Regions from separate parts of the Homo sapiens genome. Here region 2 is linked to region 1. Evidence: fine-mapped expression QTL. A gene starts in region 1. The other region holds a variant in brackets. All regions are shown on one strand. Distances are between the middles of the regions. Region 1 holds the start of TMF1 (TATA element modulatory factor 1). Region 2 has its middle 35 kb from the start of TAFA4.

The links.
Region 2: its variant is fine-mapped to the expression of TMF1 in lung (TOPMed, PIP 0.99).

What each region holds. Positions count from the first base shown.
Region 1 is chr3:69,048,461-69,056,799 of GRCh38, forward strand. TMF1 (TATA element modulatory factor 1) reads right to left here and starts at 3,873. Exons shown (of 17, transcript NM_007114.3): 1 at 3,485-3,873; 2 at 1-102. The coding sequence starts at 3,626. UBA3 (ubiquitin like modifier activating enzyme 3) reads right to left here. Exons shown (of 18, transcript NM_003968.4): 13 at 8,319-8,339; 14 at 8,152-8,233; 15 at 7,723-7,823; 16 at 7,540-7,603; 17 at 7,391-7,445; 18 at 6,270-7,065. The coding sequence ends at 6,977. MIR3136 (microRNA 3136) reads right to left here and starts at 575; the gene lies at 498-575. RefSeq lists an enhancer at 3,465-3,934.
Region 2 is chr3:68,963,522-68,971,860 of GRCh38, forward strand. No RefSeq gene overlaps it. Among named protein-coding and RNA genes, the nearest start is that of TAFA4, 35 kb to the left of the region's middle. The variant A/T (reference allele first, on the strand shown) is at 3,898.

The DNA.
Region 1 (8,339 bases):
TGATTGCTTTAGGAGAGGCTATTGGTGGACTCTGAGGTTCAGTGTTTGATTTCAACCCCCAGGTTGAAGTATCCCATCCTCCACTGACAGGGGAACTTATTCCTTTAACAAAAAAGTAAATATTAAAAAAGAACACATATATGTTACATTAATATTTCAATCATCATTATAAATCAGTATAAATATAAATTTAGAAAAAATACCCTATGAAATACCTGTAATTTGCACCTGCTAAACTCCTTGCTTACTACATCATTAAGTAGTTTCCAAGTTAATACAGGGACTTACGGAAGAAAACTGGTGTGGGTCCACCTGAGAGGAAGGAGGAGCACAGACAAAAGACTGGGCCTGGCCTGGACTACCAGATGCGAGTATGTTATTCCTCCCCACAACAAATTAAGGAAGTAACAGTATATGTTTTATAACCCACAGTAAGTCCAAGATACCTATGATTCATCTCATAATAACACGCTTTACTTATCAATATGAAATAAACTAATATGGAACTAACTGAATAGGTTGGGCCATGTGCAGTCACAGAAAAATGACCCTACCTATTCAGTCAGTTTCATATTAATTTTTACTTGTAATATCAGTAATATAGTTATGAGCTAGACAAAGGGCAACACTCAAAAACTGAACTCAGTGGGTATGGAGGTTCACACCTATAATCCCAACACTAGAAGAGTCATTTGAGTCCAGGAGTTCAAGACAAGCCTGGGCAACATAGTGAGACCCCTGTCCCTACAAAAAAATTTTTTTAATTAGCTGGGCCTGGTGGCCCACATATGTGGTCCCAGCTACTCAGGAGGCTGAGGTGGGAAGATCATCTGAGCCCAGGAGGTGGAAGCTGCAGTGAGCCATGATCAAACCACTGCACTTCAGCCTGGGTGACAGATCGAGAACCTGTCTCGAAAACAAACAAAACAACAAAAGCCTCAAACCAAGATAATGGTGACAAATGTTCTTTCCCGAAGATCATATTAAACTGATGGGAATGGTAAGTTCTAGAGAACAAATTCATTTTCATCCACTTAATCACAGGCTGATTCTCTAAATCCCACTCTCCAAGCCCACTCTAAGAGGAAGTTTTGTTCTCAAATTCTAAATTATGTCAGAAATTACAAGGTCATTATAAATTTCAGAAATGTGTGTTTTTTTAAGAACTATTGCTCTTTGACATAGAGGTGGTTGACACTAGGGTTTTTAAAAAAGCGCTACAAAGAAAATGACTGTTTTCTTGGGGAAAAAGTTAATTATCATATCAGTCATACAAATAGCTACTACTAAAATCCTGATTTTTAAAAATGGCATAATCAGGATCTTAAAAATGGTATATTCGTTAAAGTATTTAAAGCATTTCTTTAAAAATGTTTTCTTTTTCAAATTAAAATGTGGCTGAACAAAATATTCACAAAATATTCACAATTAGAAGTTGGTGGAGAGAGCACAAGTAACTAAAAGCTTCTAAAAACTATCAAGCCTTATAGTAGAATCTATCCTTTAATATGACTTCAGGCCAGGCGCAGTGGCTCACGCTTGTAATCTCAGCACTTTGGGAGGCCGAGGCGGGCGGACCACCTGAGGTCAGGAGTTCAAGACCAGCCTGGCCAACATGGTAAAACCCTGTCTCTACTAAAATTACAAAAATTAGGCAGGTGTGGTGACGCAAACCTGCAATCCCAGCTACTCGGGAGGTTGAGGCACGAGAATCACTTGAGCTCAGGAGACAGAATCTGCAGTGAACAGAGATGGCACCACTGCACTCCAGCCTGGATGACAGAGTGAGACTGTGTCTCAAAAAAAAAAAAAACAAAAAAACAAATATATATATATGTAAATATATGTATGACTTCAAAGGCAGTTAGGATGAAAAGTATGTAGAAAACTTCAGTTTGGAGGCATAGTTCTACACATTCATTTGCACAATATCCAAACCAGAGAAAATCAAAATTAAATATGCAAATGAACAACCAAGATTATGTCTGATTAATTTAAATACATTCAAAAGATGACAGGAATTAATTTTGCCTCTTGGAGAATACTTTATATAATCCCAGGGTTATTTGGTATCCATCTAAATTATACCATTCTGAAGACTATGGGCATTTTCCGAAAACAAATATCCTTATATGTAAAACCTATATTCTATCTTATCTAAAGTTTAGTAATTCTAATTAACTGGGGCACATATGAAAAAACAGAGTTACTCCAGCAAGGTTATATGACATCTTGTAAAAAGTAAAGAGGATCATCACATACACACATGGACCAAAATATCTTAAACTGAGGTACCTCAAATTTAGGTCCTGACTTTTCAATGATGTAAAATTAAGAACAGAAACCAGAAAGGAGTAGTCAAGTACATCTCTTATCCTTTTTCACACAAAGGTTCACATCCCCCAACACCAGCAAATCTTTACCCCACACATCAAATGCTGAACTGTTCCTTAGACTTAAGAGTCAAAAGCAACTGAATGAAGATCCCTGAAAGATTAAGCTCAATGAAACTGCAAAGAGAGACTTGGCTATTCAGAAATAAAATGTGATACCATCCAGAAATCTTGGGTCACACATTTTCCGGCTAATACCTCCGGCACATTCTAATCCTCCTCCGCCGTGTGACCTAGAGCAAGTTACTTGGCCATTCTGGGCCTCATTTTCCTCTTATGTAAAACACGGATATAAACCAAGCTCTCTCTGGGAGTTGTTCTGAAGATGAGAAGGCCATAAAAAAGCACATTACAGGCTCGTGCCTGTAATCCCAGCACTTTAGGAGGCCGAGGTGGGTGGATCGCCTTAAGTCAGGAGTTCCACCAGCCTGGCCAACATAGTGAAACCCCGTCCCTACTAAAAATACAAAAAGTTGCCGGGCGTGGTGGTGGGCGCCTGTAATCCCAGCTACTAGGGAGGCTGGGGAAGGAGAATCGCTAGAACCTGGGAGGCGGAGGTTGCAGTGAGCCGAGATCGCGCCACTGCACTCCAGCCTGGGCGACGGAGTGAGACTCCGTCTCAACAACAACATAAAACCACATTACGCGCTACCAAGCGCGAAATGTTCACTGACTGTTAGCGATTGTTCTTCCCTTCCCTGATGATTTACGTACTTCAGACCTTGGATCCCAACAGTGCCCGAGACGCGAAGCAATTCGAGGTTCAGGTTCGGGAAGGTTGTGCTTGGAAGCTGCGTCGAGGGAGAGCTTGAGGGCAAGACCAACCAACCAAGTCCCCTGTCATCCAAGTCCACAAGCCTCGCACCCAGGACCAAAGAAAGACAAGGGGGAACCTGGATCTGGGTTTTCCCTCAGGAAAACAGCAAAGACCGACTTGGAGGCTGAAGCAGCATTAGGGAACGGGCCGGGGAGAAATTACTTCCTGAAAACTCTCTCAGCAAGGAAGGACCCCTCTCTACACCACTTAACCTGCCTGCATCAAGAGAACAGCAGCCTCCGGGAGCCAGGAACCCCGCTCCTCTCTCTCTTACCCGGCTCTCCATACGGAATGGTCTCGGCCCAGATGCTCGGCTCCTCTTCCTGGATGTCCAGAACCCTGTCAATAGACTTCTGGGCCTGGGACAGGGCCTGCTTAGCGAAGCTGGAGAGCTGGGAGGCGTTGAACCAACTCATCGCCCCTCCTCAGCCGGCAGTGGCGGCGGCAGCACCAAGCGGGAAGGCCTCAGGCCTGGGGAAGGGTGCAGAGGAACGGCTTCGCTCCCCTTTTCCACTCGGCTGGTTCTGTCAGCGTGTGGCCATTACCCCGACAGCCTCCCGCGAGCCCGGGATGTTACCCTCGGCCGTTCCCGCACAGCTGAGACGAAGGGGGCCCATGTGCGCATGCGCTTGCTTCTTCCACGTACACAGCAACCAAATCTACGAGCCCAGAGTTCGGTCGACAGACGGAAGAACAGAAGAACGTTGACGTCACATCCGGGAGCGCAGGGTTGCCGTTAGTTACCGAGGAACGCGGAAGGGTTTCTATTGATGTCGATTTCGTGCTTACAGCAGTTCTTAGCGAAGGGGAAGCTATGGCTACCGATAGAGGTCGATTTCCCCGGAAGGAATATTCAAGTTTTCGTGTGTGTGCTTTCCAGGAAAATAGTTCACGTGCTAAAAGCTTGCACCTTGCCAGCAATAATTGCAAAGGGAAATTGGGCCTCACACTTCTCTTAGCCCTTTGTCTCAAATATTTAATAAGCTCTGTATTAACTTGGTATTGTAAGGAGAAACACTTGTTTGGGCTTGCCTAAAAGACAGGATCACGTATGAACACTGTGTCCAACTCGTGGAACACATGGTGCATAAAGCACAACCTCTCTCTCAAAATAGTAGTAAACTCATTGCTGCAGTCAAAATACCCCTAATACTGTGGTCTGTCGGTGTCCCCTGCACAAATTCCTATGTTGAAACCTAATCTCCAATGGGACAGTATTAAGGGGAGCCTTTAGGAGATGATTAGATGATGATGGAGCCCTCATAAATGGGGTTAGTGCCCTTATAAGAGAGGCCCAAGGGAGCTCACGGCAAGAAGGCACCAACTCTAAGCCAGAATAGCAGCCCTCACCAGACACCAAATCTGCCGGCTCCTTATCTTGGACTTCTCAGCCTCTAGAACTGTTAAGAAACAAATTGCTACTGCTTATAAGCCACCCAGTTTATGGCAATTTGTTACAGCAGTCCAAATGGACTAAGACACCTAGGAAGCACTAAAGCTGTTATCCTAACAATGTGCACTGTGCATATTACTTAAAACATAACCTTTTCTGTGTGCATTCTCTTCGAACATTTGGACATGGGAAAATACCTTAAATTGGTGGCCTTCCTAATCCAGTCTGCAGCTATATTTGGTTTGGGCCCAAGTTAAAGACAAAATCCTAACTAAAAGCCAGATTTCATTCAAAAATCTAGATTTCCAGCTGCTTTTGAAAAATATGAATACCAAGCATGGGAATAGTCAGCCAGAGTGGTCACCAAATAATTTTCACTCACTCCAGTTTGCCACAGACCCCTATCACTCATCCTATTACACCCTCCCTGCTGTGATTATTTACCTTATATGCCTGCCTCCCATATTTGAATATTTTACCCCACTGCAAGGAACTCTGCAAAAAAGAATTATTTTTCTTTTAAAAAATCAGATTGAACCCCTTAAGAAGTTATAATCATCTTCCAATAATTTTATCTAACTACAGTAAAAACTTGCATGTTAAAACTAACAATTTAGTCATGTACACAAGTAGTACCAAGTAACTCAAGTACTTTCAAACAGCTAAGTAGTCTGCAGAGGAGATTTGGGGCAGATTCGGGTTGAAATTAGCTGTACAGTTACAGTTCCAAGACTTCTAATTGTACAGCTTTGGTGAAATGACCTACCTAAACCATCTAAAACTATTTATTCAGCTCTCAGATAGAGTCACCTTCTTACAATGCTACTTTGAGAATTATTATAGCACCTATATGGTGCTAAATTTTAGTTCCTTCACTTTCAAAATTGTAAGCTACACCTGTAACTTTTCAGGTAGAGCTTATAAATTTATTCCGTATGGTTTTATAATAAAACTTATTTGTCAATATGTAGCTAGAAAGATTACTGAAAACTTAACTCAGTGACACATAAGTAACCAAAAAACATTTGAACAGAAAACTGCCATATCTAAGTCAAAAACAAAGAATGAGAACACATACATGTTCTCATATTAAAATACTAGCACCTACTTTTTTAGTATTTGTACTTAATTTTGTTTGAAGTTTTATTCACTTAAAAGAAACAAAAACATGGTCAGGCATGGTGGCTCATGCCTGTAATCCCAGCACTTTGGGAAGCCGAGGGGGGCGGGGGGGGGTGGATCACCTGAGGTCAGGAGTTTGAGACCAGCCTGGCCAACGTGGTGAAACCCCGTCCCTACTAAAAATACAAAAAATTAGCCGTGCATGGTGGCAGGCGCCTGTAATCCCAGTTACTCCGGAGGCTGAGGCAGGAGAATTGCCTGAACCGGGGAGGCAGAGGTTGCAGTGAGCTGAGGTTGCATCATCGCACTCCAGCCTGGGCAACAAGAGCGAAACTCTGTCGCAAAAAAAAAAAAAAAAAAAATTATATTGATACAGAAAGTTAAATTAAACCAGTAAATTTTTACTATAGAAATTGCTGTAGCAAAAGTATTAAGTGCAATAAAAATTTGATATAACTCTGCTACACATTTAAAAATTATTCCTATATTACCATGGAACTACTGATTACCCTTAATGTACTTTTAAAAACTTCAGTGAAAGAAGTACACAATATATGATTTTATTAATAAATAGTGCAAAAGCATCAGTGATAACTGTTTGAACATTAAATTTTTTAAACAGCCATGTCTTGGCATTAGTTAATATTGTGCATATTGGCCTCTATGGCACTACAAGTAAACAGATGAAAATATTGCCCATTTTCATGCACAGGTATTCAGCTATAACACCATTTACAAATCATTATGAACAAGATAAATTCTGCAATAATATTCATTTGGATGGCCACAATTAAATGAGTGTTATATCAAGAAATAGCCTATGTTCAATATACTCCAGATGTCAGATTGTAAAATGTAATGTTATTTAAAACTTAATTCTTTATTTTCCTTAAAGGGACACCTTTTGTGTATTTGGGTACTCAAATGAAAACTTAGGAATGCATTCTTTGACCATAATAACAAAATTCACACAAAAGAGGTTGTATGCTTCCTCCTCTAAAAGAAGCAATACATTTGCTCATAATCTCTCTCTCCAGGTATCATTTCTCATATTATTAATGAAAATGCTTACAAGCACCAACACCAAAATTCTGTCTTCAAGGGAAGGTTACAAAGTTAAAAAAGAGTGGTTCATTATATAAAAAAAGACAAATCGTGGCAACACTATTGCTAAAAATGACATCGATTCAACTTCTTAGCATCCACAAAGTATATTATTTCCATGAGTTTTCTATTATGTGGAGATTTTCCTTAAGAAGTAAAATGAAGTTTGAATAGTACAGTCTGTGGGGTGGTGACATCAGCAACCGCCAGTTCTTGTCCATCAACAAGCCCCAATTCTAAAACAGAAAAAATATTATTAATACAAGCAAAAAAAACTCAACAGAAAGGATAATACACATGTAAACAAACTACAGAGTATTACGGTCTAGAAAAACATCAAAATCCAATCCTCTTTAATCAAAGTAATATTTGATTTCTTAGAGATTTTAAAATATTCTACTAAAAGAGCAATTAATTCTATTAATATGTCTAAAGTTGTAAGTAATTATTACCTGACCATATACAAGGCATTAAGAGGAAATCTAGAACAAGCACTGATTACTTTCACCAAAAAGAGAGAAAAGAAAGAAAATGATTAGTAAATACCCTTATGTAAAATACCTTTCAATGTTTTGGAGAGATTTGGCCTTGTTCGTTCTTCAATAGAGGTTACCGACTAGAAAACAAAATTACTTTAATGTAAGACACATTAAAGTAAAATAAAACTTGATATAATTTTCTGAAAAAAATTTAAAATACACATTGATAACCTGTAAGTAAAGTGTTCTATTTTTTCCCTCTAGGGTGGCTGTGATGGCTGGAGATTTCATTTGCCTAAAGATTATGATGAGAGAGAAGTATCAAACATAATTTTTATCAAAAGATAATTTTTTTAAGGTTTCAAAAATCACAAAAATGATTTTTACAACATAACAAAAATCTACAATACTTACAGAGAAGCACTATTGGTTAGATAATCCAAAACCTCCTGTAGTTTAGCTGATGGAGAAAACTGAATATTTTGAGGAAGCTGGCTACAAGCTGGGCAGTTTTCCTACACACATAATACACAACAAATTACAGCAGCACATGCACCAATATTAGTCTCTTTTATGAACAATAAAATAAAAATCAGGTTGTTTTATAATCATGCATATTTCCTATAAAAAAATTTTTATGCTTTAAAGCCTGCTTTTCATAATAGACCATTTCTTGTAAATTACTTCGCTATAGAGTTATTTCAGGCTATAAAGCAAAAGATATATAATAAGTAGAGTTCTGGAAGTTAGAAAATGTATGGGTGACTTTGTTCAAATTTCTAACCAATAATATTTAAAAATCAAAATATGCATGATCAAAAATGTGTTCTTAATACTACTAACCTTTCTTTCTGCTTCAAATGTGTATGTATACAGCCCATCTACATCATTAAACACCAAGTAATTATTCAAGGGAATGTATGCACTGTAATGAAAAAATGTTCATCTTTATATAATTAAACCAAGTCAAAACATAAATTTACATGCATATTAAAAATGAAACCTATTACCTTGTGGCTATTTTAAAAACC
Region 2 (8,339 bases), 85 kb before region 1:
CAGCAAATCAATGAAACACAGTTTACATCAAATGACCAGAGAGTTGCCAATTTCTAAAAAATCCCAGCATCTCTTGTGGATTGCTGACTTCAAAGACATGCATTAAGATTATTAAGCAAGTAATGATTGATTTATTACATAACATTAAGAAATGTTTTCTTTGAAGCACAAATTAAAAGGTCATGGATGCCCAGATTTTTCTTCAGGTTGATAGTTAAAAATGCAGAATAGATAATATTGCTGGCTATGAAGGACACATGAAGGGGATTTGAAGTAACTCTCCTTTCTGGGCAATATTTTAATGAAACGCTTAATATTCTGCAGTGGATTAATGAGGCAGTTCTCTATTTTCAAACAATGGATGAACAATTAGGACCCAATCCTGAGGACAAATTGGTGTCGCTGTTATTTTGTGATGGTATTTAAAATGACCATTGCTGTAGCAACAAGGTATTATTTAACAGGAATGAAAATAACCATTTACATCAAGCATTTCAGCAGAGATATTCTGGGAAAAAAAAATGTGGCAGCTGCTGTTCCTAGAAATAAAGCTGACATTTTCGGATGAAAGCAACCAGCTGAAACCTAAACATGCTTTGTGCCGTGTTCAGAAGTCACCCGAAATGCATGCCAACGTGCTAAACACTCCCCATAAAGCCAGCAAGCTGTGGAATTTCTCACTCTGGTCTCAAAACACTCAGGGGAGAAGAGATGGGTGCAGATCTTTGAAGAGGTCAGATTTGAGAATGAACAGAATTAATTAGCCACATGAGAGTAAGGAAACCATACATCAAGTGTGGGAAAAGTTATCTACATATGGAGATTAACTGGGAAAAATTGATCTTCCAACCAAACTCAAAGTCCAATCCAAGACTACTCTAAACACCTGCATGTCCTAAATAATCAGGAACTATATTGCTCAGCAAGCTTGCATAACAATGTAAACAGAATAATAAATTGTCTCTGATTTTTCCAGTGCATTGTTATGGAAAATGAGGATGAAAATTCTACGGGTGGTCAATGAGAATAAACTATGTTTTACGCCCAAGAGTCAAATAAAAATCAGGGACTTTTCCCATACTTCTGTGAATTGTAATATATATTTACCTCAATGTCATCCCTGAGGAATATTCTTTCTAATTCTACCTCTCACACCTCTAGTCTTTTCTTCCCAGGTGCAAAGTTATTTTGCTTGCTAGTTGAGATAAGTTCTATAATTTAGTTTCCCCCCTCTTCCTCCCCCCAAAAAAAGACTATAGGACTAAATTGATAGGATGAAATGATAGGTTTAAAGAATAATTCATTATACCATCAAGATCTTGGCATGCTGATAGCTGAAAAGACTACTTTGAGCTGTCAGTTCTAAAGCACATACTTTTTCATTGTCTGACATGCCAAGTGCTTGATAGAATAATGAATTGTTCCCATTGACATCACCATCGCACGTAACTCTTGGGCTCCATGCAGCATTTTTCAGGGGTGATGAATAACATCAATGTTCTTTCCATGGTGTGTAAAACTAGGAGGATGAGGGCAGGCTCAGGGACTGCTGAAGAGGAGGATGGTGGTTTAGGGATGGAGGGAAGAATGGAGGCAAGGTCAGAGGTATCATTAAGGTCAGACACAACTGTGGTGCATGTGATAACACCTCATAATTAAAAATGTATCATTCCAACTGGGCGCTGGTGGCTCATGCCTATAATCCCAACGCTTTGGGAGGCCAAAGCAGGTGGATCACTTGAGCTCAGGAGTTCAAGACTGGCCTGGACTGTGGTGAAATCCCGTCTCTACCAAAAATACAAAAAATTAGCTGCACATGGTGGCGTGTGCCTGTTGTATTCCCAGCTGGTGAGGTGGAAGAATGGCTTCAGCCCAGGAGGCAGAGGTTGCAGTGAGCCAAGATCATGCCACTGCACTCCAGCCTGGGCAACAGAATGAGACCCCATCTTAAAAAAGAAAAACAAGAAAACATACAATTCCACATTCACATTTCGACATAATTGCAACAAAACACCATCCAAGAATTCTGCCTTTTTACTTGGGAAAGGTTTGGGGTTTGATTTTTTTCTGGCTTGGAAGCTATTTGCTGCTACTGCACTCAACTCAGAGGCCCAGCTCCCCTGGCTCAGAGATAAGAAAGACAAAAAGAAGGTACTCATATCAAAGCCATGGGGCCATTTCCCTTAGAATGGGTCATATACACATACCCAAGTTATACTCTGCTCCTAAAGCATGATCATCCTTCTCTGCATCTCCAGGGTAGGCCAAATCTGAACCACTGTAGCCAAGGGAATGTCTCCTGAAGGCTGTAAGACCCACTGAGCAAACTTGTCCAGAGCCCCTAGTAACATTAAGAACTGGAGCTACAAAATGCTTAATACTGACAGAAGTCACAATCCACAGAGCTAGGCATTAATGCATTAGGCACTTACCATTTGTGTAAATAACTTTTTTTCCTGCATTTAAAAGGCAGTCTTGGACTTTCATTAAGACTCTGGTTTCCTCTAGGCAATACCATTCAGGACACAGGCATAGGCAAGGACTTCATAACTAAAACACCAAAAGCAATGGCAACAAAAGCCAAAATAGACAAATGGGATCTAATTAAACTAAAAAGCTTCTGCACAGCAAAAGTAACTACCATCAGAGTGAACACGCAACCTACAGAATGGGAGAAAATTTTTGCAATCTACCCATCTGACAAAGGGCTAATATCCAGAATCTAAAAAGAACTTAAACAAATGTACAAGAAAAAATCAAACAACCCCATCAAAAAGTGGGCAAAGGATGTGAACAGACACTTCTCAAAAAAAGACATTTATGCAGCCAACAGACACATGAAAAAATGCTAATCATCACTGATCATCAGAGAAATGCAAATCAAAACCACAATGAGATACCATCTCACACCAGTTAGAATGGCGATCATTAAAAAGTCAGGAAACAACAGATGCTGGAGAGGATATGGAGAAATGGGAATGCTTTTACACTGTTGGTGGGAGTGTAAACCAGTGCAACCATTGTGGAAGTCAGTGTGGCGATTCCTCAGGGATCTAGAACTAGAAATCCCATTTGACCCAGCCATCCCATTACTGGGTATATACCCAAAGGACTATAAATCATGCTGCTATAAAGACACATGCACACGTATGTTTATTGTGGCACTATTCACAATAGCAAAGACTTGGAACTAACCCAAATGTCCATCAATGATAGACTGGATTAAGAAAATGTGGCACATATACACTATGGAATACTATGCAGCCATAAAAAAGGATGAGTTCATGTCCTTTGCAGGGACATGGACACAGCTGGAAACCATCATTCTGAGCAAAGTATCACAAGGACAGAAAACCAAACACCGCATGTTCTCACTTATAGATGGAAATTGAACAATGAGAACACTGGGACCCAGGGTGGGGAACATCACACACTGGGGCCTGTCATGGGGTGGGGGGCAGAGGAAGGGATAGCATTAGGAGAAATACCTAATGTAAATGACGAGTTAATGGGTGCAGCAAACCAACATGGCACATGTATACCTATGTAAAAAACCCGCACGTTGTCCACATGTACCCTAGAACTTAAAATATAATTACAAAAAAAAAAAAAAAAGACTCTGGTTTCCAGATAGGGCCTTCTCTGGTTTCCAGGTAGGGGCTTTCTCTACCACATTCACCCAAGTAGTGAGTATTATAGTAATAACACCTGCTTCAGGAGTTCCCCTCCCCCTCCACTAAACAGCAATTAATTTTCTTAATTTTGTTATTTCAAAAAAAAAAAGGGGGCAGTTTTCGTTTCCCCTCTCTTGGTAGACATTTTCCTACTATCATTGAAAACACTGGATTATGTGAGTATTTCTTTCTGTCTCAGCCCATCTCTAAATACAAGTAGATG[A/T]ATAATCCCCCCACTAACATGGGGTTAAGAACACATGCATTTTATATAAAGACTTTAGGATAAGGCACAGAAGAACCATTTTTCCATCAGAGCCACGAAGTGGCTATTTTATATAACATGAGTTCACATGTGTGCATATATTTGTATATATCCACATTTAATTTGTCATTTCATCATAGACTTGATGAGCAGAAGTCTAGACAAGATAGTTAGAGCTCAGATAACGTGTCCAAACTCCTCACTGAAAAGCTGAGAATGCTGAGGCCTGGGGAGGAAGGTTGGCAGACAGAGCCTTTTTAGTTAGTGAAGTTCTCAGATGATGTTGATAAAACTACCACAAGGCAAAAGTTCCAGTCCTGCAGCCCTGGAGCATCTGCCAGTTTTCCCAGGGGGGCATCATTTGCCATCTGCTCTCACCCTTCTCACTGAGGGTCTACCTCTCAGACTGTCAACCCATTACAGGGCCAAACATTCTGGGGTTGTAGACCTCAGTGGCCATTGGCATCATGGCATCTCAGATTAAAGTTTGGCACCTACACAAAGGTTTCTCTGGGGTACATGGGCACATGGCCTTGGCTTCCTATATGTCTGCATCTTCTTCCTGCTCTTCCTCCTCTCCCTGCTGCCTTACTATTTATCGAGGCCTTGCCAGATGCCAGGCATTAATTGTGCTTTCTTACATTTCCCTGGGAAGAAGCTCCCCTGACTACACTACCCCTCAGTCTAAAGCGTTTCTCCTGGTCAGGAACATTGTTGAGTTTAGCCTAGACTGGGCATGATGACTCACACCTGTAATCCCAGCACTTTGGGAGGTCGAGGCAGGCAGATGGCTTGAGTCCAGAAGTTCAAGACCAGCCTGGGCGACATGGTGAAACCACATCTCCACCAATAACAGAAAATAAATTAGCCGGGCTTGGTGGCACATGCCTGTAGTACCAGCTACTTGGGAGACTGAGATGGGAGATCACATAAGCCCAGGAGGTAGAGGCTTCAGTGAGCAGTGATTGTGCCACTGTACTCCAGCCTGGGTGACACAGGGAAACCCTGTCTCAAAAAAAAAGTTTAGTCTAAAGCTGCCTTCTCACATATTTAAAGTTCAGCCTAAAGGTTTCTACGTAGATGGGAAACTGTATCCTATGATGGAGGTGTAAACAAATTGTAGCCTACTCTTGTGCCAATCACAGGGGCAATCGAAGGGGGCCAACTGTTCAAACCATGTTAAAACAAGACAAACACCAGGCTGTAACTAATCTGGCTGTTTCTTTACCTCACTTTGGCTTTCTGTCTATCACTTTCCTTTTTCTGTCCATAAATCTTCCACCATGTGGCTGCACTGGAGTCTCTCTGAGCCTACTCTGGCTCCGGAGACTGCCTGATTCCCGAATGTCCTTTGCTCAATTAAACTCTGTTAAATTTAATGTGGCTAAGGTTTTCCTTTTAGCAACATATTCTTTCCCTTCAGGGTACTTCTCTCCCGTTATCCTTACATACTCTCACTTGTGTGATTACCTGACTAATATCAGTCTCCCCTATTCCTTACCATTGTGTTCTCAGCAGAGTGCCTCATACCTGGAATGAACAAATAGCTCCTCACAACCACCTGATGAGGTTGGGTCCCTTAATACCCTCCATTTACAGATGAGAAAGCTGAGGCTCAGTGAGCTTAAGTGGTTTGCCTTAGGTGTACATGTAAAAAGTAGCAGCACGGGGTGCATTTGAGGCCAGAGCCCATACTTTCACCCGTCTCCCACACTGCCACTCCTCATGAGTCTGCAAAACCCCTCTAATTTCTGTCAAGATGTCATCTGCATGCACTTGCCAAACATCACTCACTACCTTATGGAAGACTCTCGGTGGATGTCAAGATGTCTTAATGGGTGAAGCGGGTGTTATCTTCAGGCTAACTTGGGTTCTCTTCCAAGGGTCAGGCACAGATCCCAACAGAGTAAATCCAAATTCTGCTACGATGTCTTACCACAGGGGTCTTCACTTGGACAAGATGCTGTTACCTAAGAAGCAACTAGTCAAGTCATTTCTGCAGGACTCCTGGCTGATGGGTGCTATCAAGTTCCAACAGGAAAGCAGACTTTTACACCACAGACTTTTAAGTGCTATTAGAATTAAACAGAAGGAGGAGGAAGAAAGGAACAAGAAGGAGAAGAAAGACAAAGAGAAGGAGAGCATATTTCCCAGCTATGGCCCTTTTCACTACTTTAAAAGCAAAACCATCAAAGAATGGGCACCTTTCTATGGGTATGACTTTTATCCCCTTGTCCTCTAGATTTATTGCTTGCACCACGTAGCTTCCACCATAAAACTCTTCTTTCCAATAGACTGCTATCTGAATATCAAGAGCAAGACTCTCCAGTAACATATAATCTAGTAAAAAGTAAATATGATAGAATAACAAAGCGATTTCTGAAGGCAATTTATTTGCATAGAGATACCTGAGAGGGAAAACCAAAATTCCATCTCAGAATCTGGTAATAATGTACTATGAGATGCTCCATCATCACATCTTACTTCTAATTTTACAGAAAAGCAGTTGTAGCAACTGGAAGAAAACCTCTCAGTCTCATTTCTGCAAGGTGAACCATAAACACTTCTAAATGCCTCATGGGTAAACTCTCTCCCAGCACATTGCTGAATATCACTTGAATATTTGAAAAACGATATGTAGACAAAGATATTTTTCTAGAGGATTTACATTTTCCCATCAATGTAGAATTGCCCTTGCTGTGAATAAGTACTTGCTTTCTTTTCTCCCCATTTTCCACGTGCCTTAAGGGTTTGAAGGGTTGCTATGGATGATGTTTACTTGTTTCCTTAGTTTTTCCATTTTCCTCCTCATCCTGCCTTATTTTAGCTGGCTTTCAAATGTTAATCCTGGCCTTTCCCTGCCTCACCTTAGGTCTGTTCAATGTGTCCCTAGTACTACTCTCATTTCACTAGTCACCTGCTTCACTAGTCACATGGCTATACCACTTTAACTTCGGGTTTTCTTCTGGGACTTGCAACAGTCACCTTAAACTTCATCCCCTACCTGCTGATTCCTCATCCAATGGCCTTATATCAAACTGGCCTGATTTTGCTGGCACCTTTACTTAACACTGTGCCCGACTTGGATTTCCACCCAAGACAGGAGACACTTCCGCTGAATTGTGTCCTTGCCATTTACTCTCCAGATTTCTCTGGAAACTACGATTACTTTTTGCCTACTCTTGTCCTGCTGATTGAATGACCTCAGCTTGAGAGGCAACAACACAGTGATGTAACTGGCTGGCATTCAACTTGGAGTAAGACAACAAAGGTCCAAATCCCTCAACCTTAGTTTGCTTGCATCTCCATGGTGTAGTATGGGGAGAATAATACCTGCAGTGTTGGCATTGCTGTAGCAGTGAAGTTCTTTCAGATTGTAAGGATGAGCTAATCCAATCCATAACCTAAATGTACTAGCAGCTTCATGGATAACTGGAAAGTGACTCATAATTGTACCCCATAGAGGAGGAACCCCAGTAGCTCAGATCTGGTGTCTTTGTCCCAGGAACTTTGGCATTCTCTTTGCACCTCACCTTCAAATGTCCCCAGCAGAATGGCTCTGGATGGGTCATTTATTTACCGTTTATCTCGCAGCCTCTTGATTGAATAGACTTTGGCTCAGCTGTTGATTCCTGGTCCAATTAACAAGAACCAGGTATCACAGTTGATTTAACTCAACAAATAAGATGCAACTGACCAGAACAACTGCATGGTGAAGGCACTGCCTGGTCCCCCTTTCCCCAGAAGGCGGCTTTAGCCATGGCAAATGCTTAGGGTAGCCTGCCTGGAGTGGGATTCTTGCAACACCAATCCTCATACCTCTTGAAGAAAAGATTCCATGGTCAAATAAACTTGCATACAGTGCATATGACATCTTCCTGTTTAGAGATTCACAATGCACATACATCAAAGGTGCTGAGAAGTCCTGCAATAAACTTGCTTTAAATTGACTTAAGGAAGCATTTATCAAATAACTATTTATATATTTAGAGACCGAGTCTCGCTCTGTTGCCAGGCTGCAGTGCAGTGGCGGGATCTCAGCTCACTGCAACCTCTGCCTCCCAAGTTCAAGCGATTTTCCTGCCTCAGCCTCCCAAGTGGTTGGGACTACAGGTGCATGCCACTATGCCCAGCTAATTTTTGTACTTTTAGTAGAGACGGGGTTTCACCATGTTGGCCAGGATGGTCTCGATTTCTTGACCTCGCGATCAGCCTGCCTCAGCCTCCTAAAGTGCTGGGATTACAGGCATGAGCCACCACGCCCAGCTGTAACCCATTTTTTTGTGGAACATCTTATGGACACTCAGTGGAAGATACTTTGGCAAATTCTGGCTTAGACCTCATGAACTGTCTATTGCCACCAGCTTCATCAGTGTCTCCAGAACAGCAGTTCCCAACCCCTG